Regions from separate parts of the Homo sapiens genome. Here region 1 is linked to region 2. The links come from fine-mapping of genetic effects on gene expression. A gene starts in region 2. The other region holds a variant in brackets. All regions are shown on one strand. Distances are from middle to middle.

Region 1 (2,918 bases), 29 kb after region 2:
ATGATAAGAGCGGCAAACACATACGGAGGGTTTTCCAAGCGCCAGGCTCTGTGGTAGGCACTCTCCACTCACAGCAATTCTATGAGGGAGGGGCTGGGGCTATTATGATCCCCATTTTATAGAGGAGAAAACTGAAGCCCAGAGACGAAAAAGGACTTGCTCAAGACCACACAACGAGTCACCAGAGGAGGAGCCGGCATTCAAGACCAAGCCGTCTCGGTGGCTGGGCTGCACACTGCCTCTATCCTGTTCACGAATGCTATCAGCTGTGTCTCATCCAGTGCAATATTCACATCTATCAATAATATTCTACCTTCTAATTACCCACTCAAGTGGAGGCAACTGAAACCAGGTGATACTTAAAAGTACTGAATTCTGAAATATAGTGGCTTTACTTTCCTAGTTCTTTTTCACCCAGGTTAATATTAGAATGATTGTGTTAGATGCTGTCCTTAAAATCCAGGCCAGACTGGGCGTGGTGGCTCACTGCCTGTAATCCCAGCACTTTGGGAGGCTGAGGCAGGAGGATCACTTGAGGCCAGAAGTTTGAGACCACGCTGGCCAACATGGTGATACCCCCATCTCCACTAAAAATACAAAAATATGCTGGGTGTGGTGGCACTTGCCTGTAGTCCTAGCTACTTGGGAGGCTGAGGCAGGAGAACCGCTTGAACCTGGGAGGCAGAGTGAGACTCTGACTTGAAAAAGAAAATCCAGGCCAAATAGCAGCAAACTAAGAGGGCCTTGAGGCTCCTGGGTGATGGGGAAAGCCCGCAGGAAGACACAAATTTGCCACAGATAATCCACAAAGTGAATACTCCATAAGTGGTAACTAAGAATGAAGTGTAAAATAAAACCTCTACAACTCCAAGATCACAAAAGCAGGCTATACCAAGACGGGAAATTCTAGTTCTACATAAAATGATACGTTAAGAGACCTAAGTCCCTAAGAATGGGGTTTTTAAACAAAAGTGCCCCCTGAACCCGATCATACTAGAACAAATGTGATGCTATTATTTTATGAAAGTTCTCATTTTGGGGGGAGACAAACACAAAAGGCTTAATGATTCCTAGGAATGGATTGATAATACAAGATTGTTTTTTGAGTTGCTAGGCAACACTGAAAAACAAATGTCGATGTTCTGAGATCACAGCTTGGTTGTTCTCCCATGGGCAGGACCAGTGCTACCCGGCCTTCCTGCACTCCAT[T/C]GGAGAACAGGAGTGGTACAGAGCCACTGCGATGCTGAGTCCACAGTGGCAACAGACACCAACTGGCATCTCCATGAAAAGTCACAACTGACCGCCTGGCTGCCAAGATCTTTGGTGAGACAAAGTTTTCACTGAACTGTCATCACACCCAAACAAGTCCCATGCTCTCCGGGTTCTTTGCTATCTGTGATCACTTCAATCGCTTTTTTTTTTTGCAGGTACATTACCCCCTTTTCCCCTACCGGTCTCATTAAAGCCCCATTCACCCCTAAGAGTGATTTTGACATCTGGGAAAGTACAGACACTTTTCCTGAGAGTTATTTCTTTATTTCTAAGCCATAGCCTTGACTCTGAATATTTCCACTGTAAAAAGGCCTATTTCCAATAACAGCTTTCTTAGGGATATGTTGATATTACCTTAGGTAAGTTGAATTCCTCCTTTGCTGAATGCCCTGAACTACGGCATCTATTCTTTTTCAAAAAATAAAAGATGATGCCCAAGGTTCTAAAATCACGTCACACATCTACGCACAGACTTGGTAAAGAAATGAACTCCCTTCTTTCATTCTAATGTTTGGGGGCACAGTGTAGTACTGTTTATCCCTATAATCCAATCACCCACCTCAGTATTCCAATCTGGGTTACTTCACCTAGTCATGTGGCTTGTGATATATAGAGACAAAGATAAGCTAATATTGTAATAATGATTTCACTGAAGACTATTTTTTAAAGAGCAGATTTAGGTTCGCGGCAAAACTGAAAGGAAGGTGCAGATATCCCACATACAGCCCAGACTCCCTCTTGATCAATATCCCCTACCAGAGAGGTGCCTTCGCTACAATTGATGAGCCTGCATTCACATGACATTATCACCCAAAGCTCATCATTTCCATGTTCAATAATAGTTTCATTTTCTTTACGTTGTAAACATAATTTTGTGCTTTAAGAACTCCCACTCTTTGCCGCCCTTCCCCCCCACCCCCAATTAAAAACCCAATGAACCTGAAAAACAATCTTAGATCTGTGTTTTAAATGAGTCTCCACCTTCAAGGGCAAGTTGTCCGTCACTTAGGTAAAAGGACTAATTAAATGAGCTTGTCATAGCCGTAACATTCACCGTCTGAAGTGCAGACGAATCTACTACAGGCCAATTGTGAGTGGGTATTCCTGAGAGCCTGACACGAATGCATCGTACGTGGTAAGAGGCTGGTTCAGTAACCACCATTTCTATAGCAACCCCCACACACTCTCAGGCTGTGTTTTGAAGAGGCAGTGAAAACTGGATTCTACAATGTAGCTTCACTCTTAGAATATGCTTTTATTTCTATCATCTCATTAGAATGAGAGTATCCAAATCATATAATCCAGGTTGCCATTAAACAGGAGAAACTTATCAAATACAGGATCCGTAAATCTTTATTTATTCTTTTTGCCACTTGATGTCCATCGCTTTAAATTCAAACCACTGACCTGGTTTGCCTGTGACCATTCCCCAGGGCAACAAGTCAGATGTCCGTCTGACAACCTGTACATCAGACAGCCATCTGCTGCCCCAGTTACAGGATAAAGAAAGGGTAAACGTCTGTAAAATAGAGCTGACATAATCATCTCTTACTGTCCAGAAAGGCTCAGCTAAGAGGCATTCGCTATGACTAACAAAACTTCCTTTGACAGACATGGGAAGGAAAACTGCTTCTTTCAAAGGTCAA
Region 2 (2,918 bases):
TTGTAGACAGTGTCCTAACACATGTTTCCAGACAAATCTTTAAGAAGGCTGCACCTTCACAGAGCTCACTGGCTATCTTCAGACACCAGGCAAAACATCCCCTTTGAGCAAAGGAGATATTACTCAGCTGAAGCTTGCAGAAAGCAGTACGATGGGGCCGGGCACCATGGCTCACGCCTGTAATCCCAGCACTTTGGGAGACCGAGGTGGGCAGATTACTTGAGGCCAGGAGTTCGAGACTTGCCTGGCCAACATGGTTGTATTAGGGTTCTCTAGAGGGATATAACTAATGGAATATATATATTATATATAATAATATATATATATACACACACACACATGCACATACATATATACACACATATGTATATATAAAGGGGAGTTTATTATTAACTCACATGATCATAAGGTCCCACAATAGGCCGTCTGCAGTCTGAGGAGCAAGGAGAGCCAGTCCGAGTTCCAAAACTGAAGAACTTGGAGCCTGATGTTCGAGGGCAGGAAGCATCCAGCACGGGAGAAAGATGGAGGCTGGGAGGCTAGGACAGTCTCTGTTTTCACATTTTTCTGCCTGCTTTGTATTCTAGCTGTGCTGGCAGCTGATTAGGTGGTGACCACCCAGATTAAGAGTGGGTCTGCCTCTCCCAGCCCACTGACTCAAATGTTAATCTCCTTTGGCAACACCCTCACAGACACGCCCAGGATCAATACTTTGTATCCTTCAATCCAATCAAATTGACATTCAGTAGTAACTATCAAAATGGTGAAACCCCATCTCTACTAAAAACACAAAAGTTAGCCATGGTAGTACATGCCTGTAGTCCCAGTTACTAGGGAGGCAGAGGCAGGAGAACTTCTTGAACCCAGGAGGCAGAGGTTTCAGTGAGCCAAGGTAGCGCCACTGCACTCCAGCCTGGGTGAAAGAGTAAGACTCTGTCTCAAAAAAACAAACAAACAAAAGTAATAGAATGGGGAAAAAGAGATGCCACTGTTTTGTCTACCATTTTCCTTAAAAAGTAGCTGAGAAGCAGCTGATATAGCCCCAAAATGACCATTGTCACACTAGAGCAACAAGATTAGGGAACTGTAAGATACTAGTAATAGTTCAGAGAAATAAACTGTTTTTGTAATTTACAACTTACAAAAACTTTGATATGTATTGTCTCACTTGAATTCAACTCACCCAGAGGTGAGGAGAGCAAATACCCCCAACCTCTTGCTAAAGCATCAGAAGTGAGTCACCTGTCTGTTGGTCAGAGCCAGGCCTGACACCCAGAGCTTCTTCTCCAAATCCTAGATTTTAATAATTAGCATGGTTTACTTATGCCTTAGACCCTCATTATGGAGTGCTGAATGCATACTGTAGACAGATAGCAGAGGGTGCCAGTGAGGTGAGATGGGGCAGCAGCATGCAGAGGTGGCTGCACACTGGGCCGAGTGTCAGGAGATGAGGCCCACCTCTGTGTGGTCACCCATTGCATATGTGGAAAGGTCAACACAACACTTGTGACTTCAGCCTTCAATTTCCTCTGCTGTGAGACCACCAAGCCTCTTTCAGGTTCTTCTATTCCTGCCCATCCTGTTAAGGTGCAAAAGCCTAGCAATGCGAGAATTATGAGCCACTTTGAAGGTACCAAAATACCAACCTGAAACAACTCACAATGGCTGCGAAGAATGGAAAAAACATTTGCCAGGTATTTTAGTGTATATTTACAATTACAGCTTTGAAAATCATTTTTTTTTTTTGGCGGGGAGGAGAAGACTTGCAATTTCTATTTCGCCTGGAGTTTAGCTGGCTTTCTCCCTGATCTATGAGAGCAACTGCCTTTCTCCTTGTCACTGCCTTCTCCTGTTTGAAGGACCATGACAACCATCATGCCCTTTTCAAGTTCTCTGTGATGTCATAAAAGTCCCCAAGACATAATTGCAACTTGCTTTAACTATGGTGTCAATGCAGCAAACAAGAAATCGTGGAATATCAATATGGTTGAAAAATCACCCCCCATTTCTAACTTTACTCATTTTTATGAGGTCCTCTAGGTCTAAACACCTGCATAAGCGATGTCTGTGAGAGGGTGAACACAAGAAATCACACTGAGTTTGTCATGCTTGTGGCCTACGTACCATTCTGTGGCTTTCTGGTTTCCTTCCTTTTTGGTTTTGGTTTCATTTTCTTGGGTGCGATGCCTCTTTGTTTTTGCATTTGTCTGTGCTAGTTTATCCTAAATAAAGTTCCAAATGCACAGGGTCACTATCACTTAAATGATGTTGTGTATCCCCTGGCAGAGCTTAGGGCACACACTTTCTTTTCTTTTCTTTTCTTTTTTTTTTTTTTGAGACGGAGCTTCGCTCTTGTTGCCCAGGCTGGAGTGCAGTGGCGTGATCTCGGCTCACCGCAACCTCTGCCTCCCGGGCTCAAGCAATTCTCCTGCCTCAGCCTCCCGAGTAGCTAGGATTACAGGCACCCACCACCACACCCAGCTAATTTTTGTATTTTTAGTGGAGACAGGGTTTCACCATGTTGCCCAGGCTGGTCTTGAACTCCTGACCTTAAGAGATCCACTCACCTCAGCCTCCCAAAGTGCTGGGATTACAGGCCTGAGCTGCCACGCCCAGCCTTATGTATTTCATTATACAGATTATTATGTATTCCATTTGTAAGTTCTGTCCTATGCATCCTTTATCAGGGACATTTATAATTTAAGTGCATTCATTTCCAGAGAGCTGGCTGTTTAAGCCGTGCACCACTGTTTCTAGCTGGGTGACCTCAATTACTTAACCACTAAGCCTCAACTTCAGTGCAAAACAAAGAAGAATAAACATTCCTTCCTTGAAAGATTTTGAGGATTGAATGCAATGATTGTTTCCAATACATTGTTTCCAGGTAGAGACTCCAGGAACCTCAGTCCCCTTCTCTC

Direction of the effects. Alleles are on the strand shown, and positions count from the first base shown. SD is a standard deviation of normalised expression in the study named.
As copies of C replace T in region 1, the expression in putamen of the gene that starts at base 1,610 in region 2 goes down (moderate effect, 0.51 SD a copy in GTEx).

The links. PIP is the estimated chance that this variant, and not a neighbour inherited with it, causes the effect. A credible set is the group of variants that fine-mapping cannot tell apart.
Region 1: its variant is the best candidate, but not a certain one, in a credible set for the expression of FAM171A1-AS1 in putamen (GTEx, PIP 0.55).

What each region holds. Positions count from the first base shown.
Region 1 is chr10:15,236,342-15,239,259 of GRCh38, forward strand. All of the region lies in intron 5 of FAM171A1 (family with sequence similarity 171 member A1), which reads right to left. It overlaps FAM171A1-AS1 (FAM171A1 antisense RNA 1), which reads left to right. Exons shown (of 3, transcript XR_007062068.1): 2 at 1,178-1,323. Among named protein-coding and RNA genes, the nearest start is that of FAM171A1-AS1, 29 kb to the left of the region's middle. The variant T/C (reference allele first, on the strand shown) is at 1,210.
Region 2 is chr10:15,206,978-15,209,895 of GRCh38, forward strand. It overlaps FAM171A1-AS1 (FAM171A1 antisense RNA 1), which reads left to right and starts at 1,610. Exons shown (of 3, transcript XR_007062068.1): 1 at 1,610-1,694. LOC105376434 (a long non-coding RNA gene) reads right to left here and starts at 423. Exons shown (of 4, transcript XR_930699.2): 1 at 399-423. LOC107984211 (a long non-coding RNA gene) reads right to left here. Exons shown (of 3, transcript XR_001747379.2): 3 at 1,280-2,222.